Linked DNA regions of Homo sapiens. The protein of the gene in region 1 purifies or fractionates together with the protein of each later gene. This does not show direct contact. Each region holds a gene or a part of one and is shown on either strand. Other genes may lie near its edges.

Region 1 (7,112 bases):
ATGGAAGAAATCGGTAAATAATTCACAGTGCTGATGACCAGGGCTTTCATTAACAGATGGCTTAGACCATTTTAGGAAATTCCTGATTGGGTAAAACAGAACATAAACATTTTAGCAATTAAGAGTTAGATATATCTTACAGTCAATAAGTATTCTTTTTTTTTTTTTTTAAACAGTGCCTTTGCTACCCTAGAAGAGGAGGCTTGTACAGAACTTGTTCCTTACCTTGCTTATATACTTGATACCCTGGTCTTTGCATTTAGTAAATACCAGCATAAGAACCTGCTCATTCTTTACGATGCCATAGGAACATTAGCAGATTCAGTAGGACATCATTTAAACAAACCAGTAAGTATCTGTTAAGAACTATTAGGGAAAATAATGTGTAGCATAGTTACAATTAATAGATTAGCATATATTTGGAAATTAAGATGTTTTGGGAGATGTGAATAGTTAGCGTTAGCTACTTTAAGAGTATAGATCTTACAAAGGCAGCAAGTATATCCCCTTTCATGTGGTATTCTTAAAGTAAATACATACTTGGTGTGGAAACTACAGCAGCATTTCACATGAATGCTCTGATACTTTTTAGAATGACTAAAGCAAAGGGATAAAAAAGTTTTTATAATCTGGATATCTGCTTTTACTTAATTCCTAATGTTTTTGAATCTACCACTTCATAAACACTGTAGCTTTAGAGTACCATATCTAGACATCTTTGTTTTTTCAGCAGGTACGGGGAGTATACTGTATAAAACAAATAGAAATTGGGGTAGTAGGTTTAAAAATGCTAAATAGTAATGCAAAAGTGCCTTGTTTCCAGTAGTGTTAGTAGAAGAGGAGGATGGATTTGTCTAATGAGGATTTAAGTGATAGTAGAATTTTAATATAGCTCCACATACCCTGCTGAATAGACTTCTATATGATTGCTATATCCAAAGTCTTAAGAAATTGTTTTATTTTTAAGTTACACTTAAGATTTGGTACAGGGCAGTTTATAGGTTTGCTTTGCTGTTGGTTGTTTGGTTTGGCTTTTGTGGGGGTTTGTTTTCTGAATGTCTTTAGAGTCTGTGCCCCTGTTTACATGATCACTATGTTTAGTCGTTTTATGGATCATTCTTTAGTTTGACACTTAAATGATTTTAAGTTTGTTTTTCTACAAAAGCATCTGTGTAAGTTTACCTGTTGATTTAAAAATGTACTATATAGTAACAGCCATATTACACGTTACAGTTCCATGACTAAAAGGAATTTTTTTGTGTGTGACAAGGTCTCACTCTGTCACCTAGGCTAGAGTGCAGTGGTGTGATCACAGCTCATTGCAACCTCCACCTCCCGGGCTCAAGCGATCCTCCCATTTCAGCCTCCCCTGTAGCTGAGACCACAGGCGTGTACCACCATTCCTGGCCAACTTTTTGTAGAGATAGTTTTGCCATGTTGCCCAGGCTGGCCCAAACTCCTGGGTTCAAGTGATCTGCCTGCCTCAGCCTCTCAAAGTGCTGGAATTACAGGTGTGAGCCACCATGCCCAGCCCCAGAACTAAAAATATTCTGTAACTTAAAGAGAAAAACTTAGGTCTGGGCACAGTGGCTCACACCTGTAATCCCAGCACTTTGGGAGGCTGAGGTGGGCAGATCAAAAGGTCAGGAGATCGACACCATCCTGGCTAACACGGTGAAACCCTGTCTCTTTAAAACTACAAAAAATTAGCCGGGTGTGGTGGGGGGTGCCTGTAGTCCCAGCTACTCGGGAGGCTGAGGCAGGAGAATGGCGTGGACCTGGGAGGCGGAGCTTGCAGTGAGCTGAGATCACGCCGCTGCACTCTAGCCTGGACGACAGAGCAAGACTCCGTCTCAAAAAAAAGAGAAAAACTTAGATCTTCCTTGATTGTGACTTTTTTAAGTAATAGATTTTGATTAGCTGTGTGTTTATTGATAGACTCTTTTTTTCAACAAGGATAAAAGATCAGTAGATCACTAGTTCTAGATCTAAAACTAGAACACGGTCATGTAAGTATAAAGGTAGGCAACAGAAAGGAAAACTTTAAAAGGGACTGTGCAGAGTGAAGAATGACTCTTAAAATGCCTTTTGTAATGATTTTACACAATTGCTCAAAATGGATTTTAATTTTCAAAGACTCAAAATGGTCTTGTTGACATGTGATAGTGGAATTTTATATGTTTTTCATCATTGTAAATAGGAATATATTCAGATGCTAATGCCTCCACTGATCCAGAAATGGAACATGTTAAAGGATGAAGATAAAGATCTCTTCCCTTTACTTGAGGTATGCAGGGCTAGTAATATTTAATCTGTTGCCAAGAACACATGTTCAAATCCAAAATGGGTATATATGATAAGAAAAGTGTTAATAAATTTATATTCTGAAGTAGACGGAGGAAATTATATGATACATACTGTTCTCTAACCTGCTTTACTTAATTGATAATAAATTAGAGTTTTAAGTTCTCTTATGTTATCTACTCTCTATATAGAGTAGATAGCATACTACTCTATATAGTATAGAGTAGATAACATACTGGGAGGATATATATACCGGGATATATATATATATCTTTTCACTCATACATATATGTTGAGTAGTGGGATTTGGTGCCAGTAAGGAGGTACTTATTTTCAAATTTGAAAATGTTTCCATGTGTACTTAACTACTTTTTTTTTTAACACCCCTTTCATTGCAAACTTTTATATGATGTTCTCGTAACTGAACACACTGTGAAATGTAGTCACTTAAACTTAGTTGAATTGACATTGATAGAACCAGTTCAGGCCTTTTCATTCTTGCTCCCTGTTATTTCAAGGTTCACCATCTTCTACCGTGGATTGTTCTTAGCCAAAGAAGTTAAATTTTCTATGACCAAGAGCAATTCTGGGCCCAGCAAAACAAGAAGAATCATTATGGTTCATTTTTTGTATGCAGTCGTCCCTCAGTATCTGCAGGGGATTGTTTCCAGGACTCCCCTTGGATACAGAAATCCAGCGATGCTCAAGTCCCTTATATAAAATGATGTGGTATTTGCATATGGCCTATGCACCTCCTCCCAATATACTTTAAATCATTTTAATTGTTTTTCTAAATACTTTTGATTCAAGATTGGTTGAATCCATAGATACAGAGGGCCAACTGTATATATATTACTTTCCGGCAGGATCTCAGAATGTGCCCAGTAAAGTCCATTCACAACATTGACCAGGATGGGAGCATGAAATGAATCTCTTCAATTTGAGGGAAAAATATGAACACATAATACTCAATCTGTCCTTTAAAGATAATGTTTCTTGTAGAAACGCTTCCTCTGAGTAAACCTGACCTGATTGGCTGGCAAACTAACAACAATGAATGGCTTCCAAAAGAGAGGGTTGGGGTGGGGGGAGGGGAACCTGCTACTGTAGAAACTAGTAGAGCAAGCTCATAAATGATCAGGATCCTGTTGAGCGCAGTTTCAAGCATTCATCATAATCTTCAGTATACCCAGAAAGTTTAGCATGTGTACTTTATTCTTCCTAGTGCCTATCTTCAGTTGCCACAGCACTGCAGTCTGGATTCCTTCCGTACTGTGAACCTGTGTATCAGCGTTGTGTAAACCTAGTACAGAAGACTCTTGCACAAGCCATGGTAATTTTTTTAAAATGTCTTCCTCTTCTTGACATGGTGGACATTTTTCTAAAGATAGGTATAATGTATACAGACTTTTTAAGTAGTTAATTAAAACCAAACTTACAAAAAACATTGTGTCTAATTTCAGCTAAACAATGCTCAACCAGATCAATATGAAGCTCCAGATAAAGATTTTATGATAGTGGCTCTTGATTTACTGAGTGGCCTGGCTGAAGGACTTGGAGGCAACATTGAACAGCTGGTAGCCCGAAGTAACATCCTGACACTAATGTATCAGTGCATGCAGGTGAGACTTGAAAGGTGAAAATGAATTGAAGCCTGTTTCTCTGTGTCACATTGGGGTTAATTTCTTCTTATTTCTTGTAGGATAAAATGCCAGAAGTTCGACAGAGTTCTTTTGCCCTGTTAGGTGACCTCACAAAAGCTTGCTTTCAGCATGTTAAGCCTTGTATAGGTATGAATATTTTCTACTGCTATGAATATGGTTTTTTAAAGTTAACATTTACATCAGCTTTGTTTTTTTATTATTAAACTGAAATTGCATGGAATCCCAACATTTATAAATGTACACTTTATTGGTTAAAGTAAACTTGCTGTGATTGAAACAGGCAAGATGGCAGGAACCCCTAATATTTCCTTGAGCTTGCCATCATCTCAGCTTTTTAGGTACTCCTGTGACTGGAGGAAAGCTTAGTAATATACTTTAGAGTAAAGGACATGCCCACCAGGGAAGCCTTGGTACCATGGACTAGTTAATAGATTCTTTTTTGAGTAGCCACCTTTTTGGTAGAGGTACACAGAAATAGTAATAATCAGGTTTTCTTCTCTAGCAAACCAGCATACTTTTTCAGATATTGCAGAAAACTTCCAACAAATGTCACTTTAACTGAGACTGGGCCTGGGGGCTCACACCTGTAATGCCAGCACTTTGGGAAGCCAAGGCAGGCAGATCACTTGAGGTCAGGAGTGCGAGATTCGAGACTAGCATAGCATTTGTCTTGGCCTTCTGTGACAATGATAAGAAATTCCTTGAATGTTGTACCCGGAATTGTTCTTAAACCTATGGGTTATAAATGAGTTATGGGATTTTTTTCCCCCTTTTCTGCATCTCAGCATGTTGGGTAACAATTATTTTAATACAGCCGGGCACGGCGGCTCAGACCTGTAATGCCAGCACTTTGGAAGGCCAAGGCGGGCAGGTCACGAAGTCAGGAGATCAAGACCATCCTGGCTAACACGGTGAAACCCCGCTTCTACTAAAAATACAAAAACTTAGCCAGGCGTGGTGGCTTGTGCCTGTAGTTCTAGCTACTTGGGAAACTGAGGCAGGAAAATCGCTTGAACCCGGGAGGCAGAGTCTGCAGTGAGCTGATACTGTACCACTACACTCCAGCCTGGGCAACAGAGCAAGACTCCGTCTCAAAAAAAATTATTTTAATACTTCATTTAAACCTTAATTTAAAATATTAATTGAATGTTTTGTCATCTGATATAATTGTGCTTTTGGATAACCATTTCTCAAAAAACTAACATAATTAACATTAATTATGATATATTAAGAACCATCAAGTTTAAACCTAACAGTGTAATGAATTCTTATGGGAAGCTTATCATTCTCATATTTACCACCTAATTTAGTTTTTTAGTTGAAACTTATATGAAAGGATTTAATTTTTTTATTATAAAGTGTTTAAGACGTACAAAAGTAGAAAAAATGTAACAAACCTCCTATCACCCAGCTTCAACTGTCCAGTCCTGTTTCCTATATACTGTTGTCAGTGGTGAGACACATAGATCTCAGATATTTTGGAGCAAATCTCAAACACAGCATTTGAAGTCTTAATATTTTAGTACATACTATACTATCTCTTCTTACAATTGTTTTTTGTTAAAGAAACCATGTTTTTTATTCTAAAGAGTTTCCTTTACTGTGGATTTTACTGATTGCATCTTTGTTGTCTTTAACATGTTCCTCTGTCCGTTGTATTTACTGTAAATTGTTTGGATACAGAGACTGAGGTTTAATGAGATTTACGTTGTTTTGTTTTTAAGACTTTATAGATGGTATTGTGTACTTAGTGTACATAGTGTCTAGTTGTCCCTCCTTTTTTTTTTTTTAATGTTACCAATCTTGATGATTGTCTCAATTAGTGGTTCTCAACTAGGGGCAATTTTGCCATTCGGGGAACATTTGCCAGTGTCTGGAGACATTTTGTTTGATGCTGGAGAGGTGCCATTGATGTCTAGTGGGTAGAAGCAAAGGATGTTGCTAAACATCTTATAATACAGGAGACAGCTCCCCTTCCCCCCAACAAAAAAATGATCTGGCCCAAACTGTCAATATTGCTGAGATCAAGAAACCCTGGCTTACATCTCCTGATTTATTAGGAGTTTAAAAAATTATGATATTCTAATTCTTCATTTAATAATGAAGATACTTATATAGGGAGACATTTCCCATATCAATAAATTACTATCCTGAGGTAAAATCATATAGCAGAGGCAAGATAAATACTTGATTCTTTTTTTTATTTACCAATTTTCAAAATAATGAATTGATTCCTATCATCCTCCAAAGGTATCTTTGATGTTTCAGAGTTTTGTTTTTGTTTGATTGTTTTTAGTGCTAGTGTGACTTCATGATGTTCAAGCTGTTGTACTGCTTGCAGTGAGAACTTAAGTTGGCTCCCGAGTCCTTTCATTATGACAAGATAGTCCACTTATTTTGCACATTTCCTGCCTTTGCCTGTAATGTGACGTTTTCTGAGAGTCCATTTTTTTTTAGTGGAAAATGTTATTCAGAGACCACAATCAGAGCACAAGAGTGAAAATTGCTTTAAAAGCCAAAATCATTGATTTTTTTTTTTTAGTCTAATTACAAGAGATTACTCTGACCAACTCTTTTTAGTGGTATGTAAAATATACCCAAACTTGTATTTCCTGTTCCACATTATTTGAAAGTTCATTGGCCAGATACTGTTTTCTTCAGTTTCTTAAGATAAACATTACCAACTCCTTTAAAAAATATTTTTAAATACAGTTGCCTAGTTTATTTCCACCAATTTTAAAATTGATGTTGCAGTAATTTTTTTAATGGTGAAACTTGTTATTTCTTGCTTAGATTTCTGTTTCCACCTAGTAGATTTCCTTTAAAGTACAATATACTGCTATTGAAAAGTTTACTACATAGTTTAAATTTTTTTTCTAGCTGATTTCATGCCAATATTGGGAACCAACCTAAATCCAGAATTCATTTCAGTCTGCAACAATGCCACATGGGCAATTGGAGAAATCTCCATTCAAATGGGTAAGATGTTTTTCCCTATTTAAAAGCATAAGGCCTGGCGCGGTGGCTCACGCCTGTAATCCCAGCACTTCGGGAGGCTGAGGCGGGCAGATCACCTGAGGTCAGGAGTTTGAGACCAGCCTGGTTGACATGGTGAAACCCCGTCTCTACTAAAAATACAAAAAT
Region 2 (7,112 bases), on another chromosome or scaffold:
GCACCTGCCACCATGCCTGGCTAATTTTTGTATTTTTAGTAGAGACGAGGTTTCACCATGTTGGCCAGGTTGTCTCGAACTCCTGACCTCAGGTGATCCACCCGCCTCGGCCTCCCAAAGTGCTGGGATTACAGCCGTGAGCCACTGCACCCAGCCCACATTTTAGTTTTACCCTGGTAGAAGGAACCTTGTTTTCTGATTCTAGGAAACACTTTTTTTTTTTTTGAGACCGAGTCTCACTCTGTGGTCCAGGGCCCAGGCTGGAGTGCAGTGGCATGATCTCAGCTCACTGCAACCTCCACCTCCCAGGTTCAAGCAATTCTCGTGCCTCAGCCTCCCAAGTAGTTGGGATTACAGGCATGCACCACCATGCCTGGCTAATTTTTGTATTTTTAGCAGAGGCGGAGTTTAGCCATGTTGCCCAGGCTGATCTTGAACTCCTGAGCTCAAGCAGTCTGCCCACCTCAGCCTCCCAAAATGCTGAGATTACAGGCATGAGCCAACCGGCCAGGCCGGAAACACTCTTAAAACTTGAAGTTAATGAGAAATCTGGGATTTGGTGTCTATTATTATTTGTGTTCTGGTAATCTTTTGATCATTTTTTGGTTCCATGGGGCCCAGGATCAGGTGACAACCAGATCTAGTCCTCCCTCTGTCCTCTCAAATAACCACACTGTCTTTGTGAGCTGTTTATTAGTCCATCACATAGGAGACTGATCCCACATGGTCTTTAAGATTAACTGGTCCGTTCCCTTTGCCAAAAACATTTGTTACCTTCCTTGGCTACCAGGTGATGATCCCTTGTCTTGAAGATTAAATGGAAGAATATCTAATTTATGGGGAAAGGACACAGGTCAATTGTCAACTCCCTGTTAAAAGGACAGGCAAGAGAAGTTGACATGCTGTGACCAAATTGTACTATAGATGAGATTTTAAGAAGCAGTTATCTTAGAAAATAAAGATTGCTGGAGCCTAGAGTAGTCCTGATCATTTAGTGTACCAGCTGATATTTTCTGATAAATAAATAAATTGCCTATAATTAATTATCACATTTTCCAGAATGGGCACCTGTTCTCTTAAGCCAAGGAAGTGTGTGTATGTGAGAGATCCATTTGATTCATGTAGCGTGTCAATCTGAAAAGGATAAGATAGGTTACTTCATCAGCCTGGTGTCCTGGAATGATTTTTTTTTTTTTTTTAATTTTATTTTTTGAGACAGAGTCTCGCTCTGTCACCCAGGCTGGAGTGCATTGGCATGATCTCGGCTCACTGCAACATCCGCCTCCTAGATTCAAGTGATTCTCATGCCTAGGCCTCCCAAGTAGCTGGGATTACAGGCGCGTACCAACACGCCAGGCTAATTTTTGTATTTTTAGTAGAGATGGAGTTTCACCATGTTAGCCAGGCTGGTCTCGAACTCCTGACCTCAGGTGATCCACCCACCTTGCCCTCCCAAAGTGCTAGGATTACAGGCGTGAGCCACTGCGCCTGGCTGGAATGATTTTCTTGAGCCCCTGTGCTTGCTATTTTTGCTAGTCACTTGGAATCTGGAAGAAACCCAGCAAACCTCTCTGAATATTTAAAGTCTATTTAACAGGGCTAATTAGATAAGGAGATGATGCCAGTAACCACCTTCATCAGATAGCACTCCCATCCTGAATTGAGAAGAACATTGCTTGAAAGTTTGGAAGTTATTATGGTGTACAGTATTCTGCAGATAATTGTTAACCTTTCATTTTTCTTTCTTTCTTTTTTTTAAGATACAGAGTTTTGCTCTGTCACCCAGGCTAGAGTGCAGTGGTGTGATCATAGCTTACTGCAGCTTCTAACTCCTGGGCTTACGCAGTCCTCCCAACCTCAGCCTCCCAAGTGGCTGTGACTACAAGCACATGCCCATACTTGGCTGATTTTTTTAGTTTTTTTCTGGAGATGGGGTCTTGCTGTGTTGACCAGGCTGGCCTTGAACTCCTGCCCTCAAGTGATCCTCCTAAAGTGCTGAGATTATAGGCATGAGCAACCACACCTGGCCCCTTTCATTTTTCTTAGGAGGATTGAGATTTTGAGTTTGATCAGGTTTGTAGGAAATTTACTTCTACCTAAATAGGGTAAAAAAAATTTTTTTTAAGTTTTTTTATTCGTTAGAGTAAAAAAACTTTTCTTTTCTTTTTTTTTTTTGTTGCACTGCTAAGAGTCTAAAGCATGCTTTCTAATTCTGTTTTGTTTAATAGGCAGGTTCATATTAAGCACTTTACAAACATAGTAGTTAAAAAGACTGGAGAGGTTATGAACCACCGAAGATCTCTTACGTCAAAGTCTCATATTCTGTACTCAGCTTCATCAACTCTTTTTCTTTTGTTTTTGTCTGACTTACGGTGAGATCATGAGAATTACCATCTTTTGAGAATGTCAGCCTTTTATTTTTGGTGTATTCGTGCTTTATTTTTTTATATCTTAAAATGAAGTTCTTTCCCTCTTTTTCTACTTCTTTCTCTACTTTTCCTCTAAGAATGGCATTATCCAAGTGGTGGAATGGGTTGCTTTCATTCAGAAGCTTTAATTCTTCGTGCCAGCATGCACAGACTTTCTTACATAACTAGATTTAGACCCTAGGACATTTTCTTCTTTGCTTATTTCTTTTTTGCCTATTACAAATGATGACATTTCCCCTATCATTTGGCCTTGTCTAGTTCCCAGTAGATAAGTCACAGAGAATACATTTTTCTTCCCTTCTACCACCATTATGTTGAACAGGGGAGGGGGGAAATTATCTCTCCCTCACCTTTCCTGGCATTCAGATGCTGCCGAGATACCTGTATTGATTTCCCCATCTTAGATGCCTAGAGAGATGATCCTGCTGGCTGGAAGTTTGCTTTCTGGTTCTCATGGGCACTTTTCTGGCTCTTTTGCAGTATAGCGTAAGCACTGTCCACCTGCGAAGGGCGCCCCTCAAGGATCCAGACGCACTCCTGGGCATGTGGCGGGCACTGAGCCGAGCGGAAGGCGGCCACGCTCGGAAAAAGGCCAGTGGTGGAGTTTTCTTTTTCCTTTCAGCTGTGGTTTTGTGGTGCTTACCAACTCCCATGAGAAATAGGGGGCTTGTCCAGGGGGTCTACTCAAAACCGCATCCTTCTCCAACAATCCCTGTTCACAATTCTTATTAGTTGACTGTCAAAGTACTGCCAAGTCTTGTCTCTCTAGGAGACCCTTCAGACCAATAGCATGTATTTCTTAAGTGATCCTTTATCCTCCATGCTCTCCTTTGGGTTTTCCCTTCTAAACCAAGTTTTAGATAGATAATGTTTTTGCCATATGGGGTGATAAGAGAGAAAGGGGAGCAAGGATAACGAGAGGGAAGCAAAAGACTAAAAGAGAATGAGACTAGAGAATGAAAGAGGGCAGAGGATTTCTTAGGAAGTCAAAGGATGCCATTTTGGATAGGAATAAAGGTATAATTAAGGAGAATCTAGAGTCAGGGTGAAAACCCAGATTAACAGAATGAACTGTCCTTATTTCACCATGGGAAAGGGAACTAGAGAAATTAAATTTCCTAACAAAAATAGCTTTAGAAAACAACTTCATATAGCCCTCTTGGCAGTGTTGCCCTTTGGCTCAACTTCATAGATTGAATGTTAGTTTAATCTTAAACAGTCGTTTCCAAGCAAAGCAAAATAAAGCGGATATTTATGTCTGTGTTTCTTATATTTTCCCTGCCTTCATCATCCCAGAGTAAGTTATTAGGCTATTCTTTCTCATATTTTTAAAGACATTGTGTTAAAGACACCAGGCCGGGCACAGTGTGGCTCACTCCTGTAATCCCAGCACTTTGGGAGGCCGAGGAGGGCGGATCACAAGGTCAGGAGATCAAGACCATCCTGGCTAACATGGTGAAACCCCATCTCTACTAAAAATACAAAAAAATTAGCCAGGCGTGGTGGCGGGCGCCTGTAGTCCCAGCTATTCTGGAGGCTGAGGTAGGAGAATGGCCTGAACCCGGGAGGCAGAGCTTGCAGTGAGCCAAGATCACACCACTGCACTCCAGCCCTCCAGCCTGGGTGACAGAGCAAGACTCCATCTCAAAAAAAAAAAAAAAAAAAAAAAACAGACACCAATCAGTAAAACCAGAAGTCCCCCAACACACACACACGTACTTTTTTTTTAACAAATATACTTAGTTGTATTTCAAAAAATATTGTATCTCTGTTAAGTGAAAAATCTGTAAGTAGGGTTTTACTACGTAACAGAAACCAATGGATAGGAGCAAATGTGTTGATCAGATTTAAAATAAGGCCAAGAGCTTTAGAATTATTTTCTGGCTTTTCCTTCTTTGCATTAGTTTGTTTCTTAGTTTGTTTTTTAATTGAGACAAGGTCTTGCTCTGTCATCCAGGCTGGAGTGCAGTGGTGTGATCATAGCTCACTGCAGCCTCAAACTCCTGGGCTCAAGTGATCCTTCCATGTTAGCCTCCTTAGTAGCTGGGACTACAGGTGTGCATCACCACACCCAGCTAATTTTGCATCGGTTTTATAGCACGGAGTTTACCATCAACATCATACTCCTTGGAAACAATTATTTATATAGCTTTTAAGTAAACTAAAGTATTATGGGTATGACACTCTTAAATGGTGAGTGATATCCTTGTATTTCTAGTAGGTATGTGGTCTAGACAGAATAAATTGGGTTAAGTAAAAGAATTTTGTATTTTCCCTCTTTCATCCCCCTATAACCTAATGCAAATAAGCTCTTTGTCTTTGAATTTTTGAGGCTTTGAAACATGTGGTCATGTTGGACATGTGGTCATAATTTTTGAAACTGTAGGGGTCTGTAGAGAAGGAAATCTGTTCATCTATTTTATTTTAAAATTTGTCTTTAGTTAACAATGATGATGTTATTTGAAGATTTTCTTTGCCATTATATATCTGCTTTTGAGCAAATATATGTTACTTGAACTTTAATGCTGCTTCTTTCATGCGTGAAAGAAATTAGCTTTTAGAAGGAGTCCATCTTAAAATACTTGTTGTAGGTACAGATCCCTTGGCTAACTTGGGTTTTTGGCCCCTACGTTGGTCTTAATCTTCTGATGATCTCTTATTCTCACCATCCCTTCCAGTCTCAGTGATGTGTGAAGCAAGGTGGTTAGTGGAATTTTGTATATGATCTTTGATAGGTTACCAGACATGATTAACTTATTACTGTATTAGAGTGAAGAGCTTCTAGCTACTGTGATCATCACTGGAGTGCATCCTTCTGGCAGGGATATGGAAAAAATATATTCATGCTAAGCTTTTCTCTGAAGAGAAAAGACTTGGAATTCTCTGGTTGATGAGAAAGGACCCTTAAGCTGTGATAGGACCTATGTGTAAAGTTTGCCTGGTCTTCATGCTCTAATGACTCCTGTGATCAGTGCCAGAGTGAACTGATGGAAAATGTGTGGTTCTTTTTCCCTTTTGTGAGCTGTGAGCCTCAGTATTACCCTACAGCTATATGAATATCAGTGCTTTCATTGGAAGGACAGTTGTTCAGATTTGTTTAAGCTTAAAGTCTTAAGTTTCAAACCCTTCTCAAAAAGTCTCATTCCTCAGTATCTTTTCACACTGTATATTGAAGAATTTCTTCATTTTGATCTTGTTTTAGTTTGTCCCTGTAGTAATGATCCAAAAATTATGCTCTTGCTAGGAACATTAAAAGTCCAAATCATAATGACCTATGGAAAAATTATTTAAATCATGCCTTAAAAGAAAATACTAGGCCAGGCACGGGGGCTCATGCCTGTAATCCCAGCACTTTGGGAGGCTGAGGCGGGCGGATCACTTGAGGTTGGGAGTTTGAGACCAGCCTGACCAACATGGAGAAACCACATTTCTACTCAAACTACAAAATTAGCTGGGCGTGGTGGCACATGCCTGTAATCCCAGCCACTCGGGAGGCTGAGGCAGGAGGATCGCTTGAACCCGGGAGGTGGAGGTTGCGGTGAGCTGAGATTGCGCCATTGCACTCCAGTCTGGGCAACAAGAGTGCAACTCTGTCTCAAAAGAAAAAAAAAGGAAATGCTGTTATGTCCCAGATAATTTGTGAATGTGCTTGTAGATTATTGTGAAGGAAGTTACATAAGGCACACCAGAATTGGTTCACCATGTCCAGGGAGGCCAATCCTGGGTGGACAGTGACATTCTAAGCAGACTTGAAGCCATGAAGTCTAAGTATCATCCATTATCACACTAAGTATCTGAACTCAAAGGAATTGTGGATGCCCTTACTAGTTGTCTTTCTCCTTTAAATGGATTTCACATGTGCATTTTAGAGTGCTTTTTTCCATTGAACTGGAACATTGCTATCCAAGAGATGTTCCTGAATTATCTGACTCATCTGTGTTTTAGAATCAGTTCTGATAGTTGACTCCCATATCTTCGGGTTGTAGATACCTGTTGTTTCTTCTCTTGCTACAAATGGGTTTTATAGATTTAACCAGAGTCTGTACTAACCAAATTAATCCTAAGAATTAGAATGGATTGCAGTATCTGTAGGGGGATTGTGCAAGTTTCAAGTGTTTGCTTGTGATTTAATCATTTAATAACTCTTTCAGAAAGAATGTGGCTTCTTCTGTGGCGGTCATGCCAAAAAAAAAAATCCACTTTCCTGAGTGAAACAATAGGTGCCATAGGAGTGGATCAAAAACTGCAGCTTAAAGGCATAATAAGAATGAATTAAGAATCTAAGAATTCAGTAAAACAGGACATAAAATATAAAAATCAATAGCTTTCACATACACAAACCATAAAAGGTTAGAGGACGTAATGGTTTTTTAAAAACCAAAACCAATTTACAGTATCAACAAAAAAGTAAATGCTTAGGAAATGTGTAAGAACCTATTAGAGGAAACTTTTTTTTTTTTTTTTGAGATGGAGCCTTGCTGTGTCACCCAGGCTGGAGTGCAGTGGCATGATCTTGGCTCACTGCAACCTCCGCCTCCTGGATTCAAGCGATTCTCCTGCCTCAGCCTCCCAAGTAGCTGGGACTACAGGCGCCCGCCACCACGCCCGGCTAATTTTTGTATTTTTAGTAGAGATGGGGTTTCACCATGTTGGCCAAGCTGGTCTCGAACTCCTAACCTCAGG
Region 3 (7,112 bases), on another chromosome or scaffold:
GTTGGGAGTTTGAGACCAGCCTGACCAACATGGAGAAACCCCATCTCTACTAAGAATACAAAATTAGCTGGGCGCGGTGGCGCATGCTTGTAATCCCAGCTACTCAGGAGGCTGAGGCAGAAGAATCGCTTGAACCTGGGAGGCGGAGGTTGCGGTGAGCTGAGATCGTGCCACTGCACTCCAGCCTGGGCAACAGAGTGAGACTCCATCTCAAAAAAATTAATTAATTAATTAAATTTAAAACATTGGCTGGGCATGGTGGCTCATGCCTGGAATTCCAGCACTTTGGGAGTCCGAGGCGGGCGGATCACCTGAGGTTGGGAGTTCGAGACCAGCCTGACCAACATGGAGAAACCCCGTCTCTACTAAAAATACAAAATTAGCTGGGCGTGGTGGCGCATGCCTGTAATCCCAGCTACTAGGGAGGCTGAGGCAGGAGAATCGCTTGAACCCGGGAGGTGGAGGTTGCGGTGAGCCGAGATCGTACCATTGCACTCCAGCCTGAGCAACAAGAGCGAAACTGCGTCTCAAAAAATAAAAATAAAAATAAATAAATAAATAAATTTTTTTTTTTTTGAGACGGAGTCTTGCTCTTGTTGCCCAGGCTGGAGTGCAGTGGCGCAATATGAGCCCACCGCAACTTCTGCCTCCTGGGTTCAAGCAATTCTCCTGCCTCAGCCTCCCAAGTAGCTGGGATTACAGGCGTTTGCCACCACACCTGGCTAATTCTGTATTTTTAGCAGAGATGGGGTTTTACCATGTTGGCCAGGCTGGTCTCCAACTCCTGACCTTGTGATCCGCCCACCTCGGCCTCCCAAAGTGCTGGGATTACAGGAATGAGCCACCATGCCCAGCCTATTTATTTATATTTATTTTTTGAGACAGGGTCTTGCTCCATCACCCAGGCTGGAGTGCAGTGGCACCATCATGGCTCACTGCAGCCTCTCCCTCTCGGGCTCAAGCAACACTCCCACTTCAGCCTCCCAGGTAGCTGAGACTACGGGGATGTGCCACTATGCCCAATTAATTTTTGTATTTTTTGTAGAGACAAGGTTTCACCGTGTTGCCCAGGCTTATTTTTAATTTTTTCAGAGCTAAGGCCTTGCTATGTTACCCAGGCTGGAGTGCAGTGGGCTCCACTGCACTACATAGTACACTACAGCCTAGAACTCTTGGCCTCAAGCAGCGTCCTCCCATCTGAGCCTCCCAGGTGGCTGGGACTGCAGACACGTGCTACCACGCCTGGCCTAATTTTACTTAACTTTTCTTCTCCCCACTATAATTTTAAGTTTCTTGAGGTCATGAATTGTTATTTTTTGTTATTGTTATTCCTTGATTTCCCAGTAATAGGCTTTATGACTGACTTCCTGTTATAATATTAATAAATAACAGTATAGGCTTTAGCTCTTTTATTTATTTTTTAAAATTTATTATTATTATTATTAGTATTTTTGTGGCAGGTTCTCACTCGGTTGCCCAGGCTAGAGTGCGGTGGCATGATCTTGGCTCACTGTAGCCTCCAATCCCAGGTTCAAGCGATTCTCAGTCCTCAGCCTCTTGAGTAACTGAGACTACAGGTGCCACCACATCTGGCCAATTTTTGTATTTTTAGTAGAGACGGGGTTTCGCCACATTGCCCAGGCTGGTCTCGAACTCCTGACCTTAAGTGATCCACTCACCTTGGCCTCCCAAAGTGCTGAGATTACAGGCATGAGCCACCACACCAGCCGGTGTTTTTAAATATAATGCCAGGAAGATTTTTATTAAATACTCATTCCGAAGGATAATTCCCAGTCTGGTTCATGTAACAGCAAATGTCTGTGTGCTAGGCACTGAGCTAAGTAGTTAGATGCAGAGAAATTTATGATCACTGCCTTTCTAGAGCTCCATAATCACCACGTCACTGGCCCATACAATACATGTGGTCAGTACTATAATAAAGCTACATGTAAGTTTTGGATGACGAAACTATTAGATCTGATTTTGGCTAAGGTGGATATGATCTCCGCATCAATAGTCTTTCCCCTGTTATATTCGCAGTCAAGAAAAATGCTGTAAGTGGAATTAGAGGGTTTACCCAGGAGACATTTAAACTCTTAGTTCCTAAGCTCAATATGGTATATAATGGTTATATATGTATATACACCTTTTTTTTTTTTTGAGTGGAGTTTCGCTCTTTTTGCCCAGGCTAGAGTGCATTGGTGCCATCCGGCTCACTGCAACCTCCATCTCCCGGGTTCAGGCAATTCTGCCTCAGCCTCCCGAGTAGCTGGGATTAAAGGAATGCACCACCACACACGGCTAATTTTTGTGTTTTTAGTAGAGACGGGGTTTCACCATGTTGGCCAGCCTGGTCTTGAACTCCTCACTGCAGGTGATTGCCCACCTCAGCCTCCCAAAGTCTTGGGATTACAGGCGTGAGCCACTGCGCCTGGCCTAATTTTATATTTTTAGTAGAGACGGGGTTTCGCCATGTTGGCCAGGCTGGTCTCGAACTCCTGACCTCAGGTGATCCGTCCGTCTTGGCCTCCCAAAGTGCTGGGATTACAGGCCTGAGCCACCGTGCCCGGCCTAATGGTTTTATATGTACAGGCAGCAGTGCTACTTTCTCACTTGCTTTATATGAAAAAGTGATCTTGCTTTTGGTAAGTTTCTTGATATTTTGTGTGTGTGTGTGTTTTTTTTTTTTTAACTCACACTACCCTGGATCACTTTTGGGATTGTCACAAAAGGTTAACTATTACTGCTGTATGTGATATACCTTACTTATAAATGGTTCATTTGATTCCATTTTATTAAAAGTATTTAATGAAAATCTTAGGTCTGGAAAAGTGTAAAATAATGGCATATTTGTAAGATAATTTGGAATGTTTAGAAATTAAGCAAAATATTTTAGGAAGACCAGAGTAGCCTGTAGTTTAGATAACATTCCTTCACCAGGAATATTTTGAAGTACTGTTCTGAATTTGGGAGAAGGAAAGTCCCTGGATACTTCGGCTGTTAGATAGCAAGTTATTCAATGATATAGCTTGTTAAAGATCTGAAAGAGTTTGGGCGCAGTGGCTCACGCCTGTAATCCCAGCACTTTGGGAGGTAAAAGCAGGAAGAGGATCGCTCGTCCAGGAGTTTGAGACCAGCCTGGGCAACATACAAAAAAAATTTTTTTTTTTAGCCAGAGCCTCGCTCTGTCACCCAGGCTGGAATGCAGTGGCGCAGTCTTGGTTCACTGCAACCTCTGCCTTCTGGGTTCAAGCAATTCTCCTGCCTCAGCCTCCCGAGTAGCTGGGACTGCAGGCGCCCGCCACCACTCCTGGCTAATTTTTGTATTTTTGGTAGAGATGGGGTTTCACCTTGTTGGCCAGGCTGGTCTTGAACTCCTGACCTCAGGTGATCCACCCGCCTCTGCCTCCCAAAGTGTTGGGATTACAGGCATGAATCACAGCGCCCGGCTGCTAAATGATTTCTAATAAAAAAGTTTTTTTTTAAAGTTCCTAGTTGGAGGTCAGATGCGGTGGCTCACGCCTGTAATCCAGCACTTTGGGAGGCCGAGGTGGGCGGATCACAAGGTCGGGAGTTCGAGACAAGCCTGATCAACATAGTGAAACCCCGTCTCTACTGAAAATATGAAAAATTAGCCGGGTGTGGTGGTGGGTGCCTGTAATCCCAGCTACTTGGGAGACTGAGGCAGGAGAATCACTTGAACCCGGGAGGCGGAGGTGCAGTGAGCCAAGATCACGTCATTGCATTCCAGCCCGGGCAACAGTGCAAGACTCTGCCTCAAAAAAAGAAAAATAAAATAAAAGTTCTGGCCGGGCATGGTGGCTCACGCCTGTAATCCCAGCACTTTGGGAGGCTGAGGTGGGTGGATCATGAGGTCAGGAGATCGAGACCATCCTGGCTAACATGGTGAAACCCCATTTCTACTAAAAATACAGAAAATTAGCTGGGCATGGTGGTGGGTGCCTGTAGTTCCACCTACTCAGGAGGCTGAGGCAGAATGGCATGAACCTGGGAGGCAGAGCTTGCGGTGAGCAGAGATCACACCACTGCACTCCAGCCTGGGCGACAGCAAGACTCCATCTTAAAAAATAAAATAACATAAAACTTCCTAGTTGGAAAGCATAAAAATAATATTTTAAAATTATTTTTATTGTTATTATTTTTTGAGACAGGGTTTCACACTGTTACCCAGGCTGGAGTGCAGTAGTATGAACATGGCTCACGGCAGCCTTGACTCTCCTGGGATTAAGCTATCCTCCTGCCTTAGCCTCCCAACTAGCTGGGACTACAGGCGTGCACCACCACACCTGCCTAAGTTTTTTATTTTTTGTAGAGACGAGGTCTGTCTTTGTTGCCCAGCCTTGACTCCCAAGTGCTAGAATTACAGGTGCGAGTCACTGCACTTGGCTTATTACTGTTTTTTTAACAAAGGCAGAGGGACGCAGTGAAGAGCCTTAGCCTTGTCCTGAGTCTACGACTATAATGACTTAACCTCACTATGCCTTATATTTCATGTAGCCAAGGTAGATGTCATATTTGCCTTTGTCAAATTCTTTTTTTTTTTTTTTTTTTTTTTGAGACGGAGTTTCGCTCTTGTTGCCCAGACTGGAGTGCAATGGCACAATCTCGGCTCGCCACAACCTCCGCCTCCCGGATTCGGGCAATTCTCCTGCCTCAGCCTCTTGAGTAGCTGGGATTACAGGTATGCATTACCACGTCCGGCTAATTTTGTATTTTTAGTAGAGACGGGGTTTCTCCATGTTGGTAGGCTGGTCTCGAACTCCCGAGATCCGCCCACCTTGGTCTCCCTAAGTGCTGGGATTACAGGTGTGAGCCACTGTGCCCGGCTTGTCAAATGCTTTAGTAACAAGAAAGGTTAGAAGTTCCTTGGCTCTTGAAATTACCTGGTTGTATTTAATGTAAAAATCTGATAGCACGGGATTCTTCTACCTCCTGTGTTCCTTAAAAATGGTCTGAAGTATAGTAGCTAATTGAAAGTCTCTTTGGTTATATTTCAATGGAGAGAAATAATACAAAGTTACAGTTTTGGCCGGGTGCGGTGGCTCAGGCCTGTTATCCCAGCACTTTGGGAGGCCAAGGTGGGTGGATCATCTGAGGTCAGGCGTTTAAGACCAGCCTGGTCAACATGGCAAAACCCTGTCTCTACTAAAAATACAAAAATTAGCCGGGCATGGTGTTGCGTGCCTGTAATCCCAGCTACTCAGGAGGCTGAGGTATGAGAACCGCTTGAACCTGGGAGGCAGTGGCTGAAGTGAGCCAAGATTGCTCCACTGCACTCTAGCCTGGGCGACAGCAAGACTCTGTCTCAAAAAAAAAAAAAAAAAAAGTTACGGGTTTGAAGAGTATGTTTTAAAAGATACTGACATTAGTGATTACATTGGAAAATGTGGGTCCAGAGGGAAAACTGATTTTGAAGACATGAGTTACATACAGAGTGTCTAGTTTGAGGAGCTGGTAAACATCAAGTAGAAAAAGTCTAGCAGGCAATTGGAATGTGGAGCTGAAGTTTAGGAGAGAAAGCAGCAATGGAAAAGTGATATTCTTCTGCAGGCAGGTGATTACAGTAGTATGATCCAAAGGTATGGGATGGACTAGAGGGCTAAACTTTCAACCATGCCTATTTTGGGTACTTTGATAAACATCTGAAAAAGCAGACTGGAGATTTTGGGCATAAAAGTAAGAGAGAAGCCAAGAAAGATAATTTTAAGAAGGTTGCTTGTGGTTAGTGGTTAGTTTCCTTTTTCTTTTTCTTTTTTTCTTGAGACGGAGTCTCACTGTTGCCCAGGCTGGAGTGCAGTGGCACAGTGACAGCTCACTGCAACCTCCGTCTCCTGGGTTCAAGCAGTTCTCCTGCCTCAGCCTCCCTAGTAGCTGGGATAACAAGGCAACCACCACCACGTCCGGCTAATTTTTTTATATTTTTAGTAGAGAAGGAGTTTCATCACGTTGGCCAGGCTGGTCTCGAAGTCCTGACCTCAGGTGATCCACCCTCCTCGGCCTCCCAAAGTGTTGGGATTACAGGCGTGAGCCACCACACCAGGCCTAATTTCCTTTTTCTTACATAGATTTAATAAATTCTCTACCAAAGAGCATGAATTACTTTTGAAAATGAGTAAAAAATTTTTAGAAAAAAGAAAGGGGTGTTGATACTCCTAAATGAGAGAGGTTAAACAAACTGAAGACTTTCTGGGAAAATGCATTAAAGTATCAGTAACCTTGGAAAAGTAATTTCTAATTTTTTTCTTTTAATTTTTTTATTTTTTTGAGACAGTCTCTCTCTGTCTCCCAGCTGTAGTGCAGTGGTGCTATCTCGGCTCACTGCAACTTCTGCCTCCCAGGTTCAAGTGATTATCCTGCCTCAGCCTCCCAAGTAGCTGGGACTACAAGCGTGCGCCACCACGCCCAGCTAATTTTTGTATTTTTAGAGATGGGTTCCACCATGTTGGCCAGGATGGTCTCCATCTCTTGACTTCGTGATCCGCCCTCCTCGGCCTCCCAAAGTGCTGGGATTGCAGGCGTGAACCATCGCCCCCAGCCTTTTAATTTTTAAAATTATTATTAATTTTCCACGCAGTCAGAGGGGAAAGCAATTTCTGATTACAGTGTTAGTGAGTGGAATGCTAGTAAGGGGGCAGGGATAAGATTGTAAGTTAAAAGGGTGGCCATATTGGGAAATTCGTTGATGTGAGAGTGTGCGTTTTTCTTTTTCTATTTTTTAAAGTTGAGCTTATTTTGGGTGGCAGAGAAAGCAGCAGGGAAGCTTGGCTGTATAGTAGAATAGGGGCCTAGGTTTTTGAGGCCTGTTGCTACTACCTGTTGTACTAATAGTTTTTCATTCATGTTTTATAGTCATCATTCCTTGAATTACATTCTTCATTACATTCTTCACAGTGCTTCAAGAACTCATTTTCCTATAGCATAAATCTGATCATGTATAACCCTTCACAAAAAATTCATACTCTTTAAATTTTTTGGCCACAACCTACCAATTCATTTTTATCTTTCACTGTTCAAAGTCTTCTCTGATTTCTGAGTTTACGTCCCTTAGGTTCTAACTTGAAATTTTACTTATTAGCCCAATTGGAATTAAA

The links.
Region 2: the proteins of TNPO1 (region 1) and IPO9 fractionate together in Homo sapiens (co-fractionation; 2 studies listed by BioGRID). This does not show direct contact.
Region 3: the proteins of TNPO1 (region 1) and IPO7 fractionate together in Homo sapiens (co-fractionation; 2 studies listed by BioGRID). This does not show direct contact.

Annotation. Positions count from the first base shown.
Region 1 is NC_000005.10:72,889,610-72,896,721, forward strand, and holds part of TNPO1 (transportin-1), read left to right. Parts: intron 1-176; coding exon 177-348; intron 349-2,200; coding exon 2,201-2,287; intron 2,288-3,529; coding exon 3,530-3,637; intron 3,638-3,767; coding exon 3,768-3,926; intron 3,927-4,006; coding exon 4,007-4,094; intron 4,095-6,848; coding exon 6,849-6,947; intron 6,948-7,112. UniProt on the Homo sapiens protein: Functions in nuclear protein import as nuclear transport receptor. Serves as receptor for nuclear localization signals (NLS) in cargo substrates.
Region 2 is NC_000001.11:201,832,045-201,839,156, forward strand, and holds part of IPO9 (importin-9), read left to right. Parts: intron 1-7,112. UniProt on the Homo sapiens protein: Nuclear transport receptor that mediates nuclear import of proteins, such as histones, proteasome and actin. Serves as receptor for nuclear localization signals (NLS) in cargo substrates.
Region 3 is NC_000011.10:9,387,619-9,394,730, forward strand, and holds part of IPO7 (importin-7), read left to right. Parts: intron 1-7,112. UniProt on the Homo sapiens protein: Functions in nuclear protein import, either by acting as autonomous nuclear transport receptor or as an adapter-like protein in association with the importin-beta subunit KPNB1.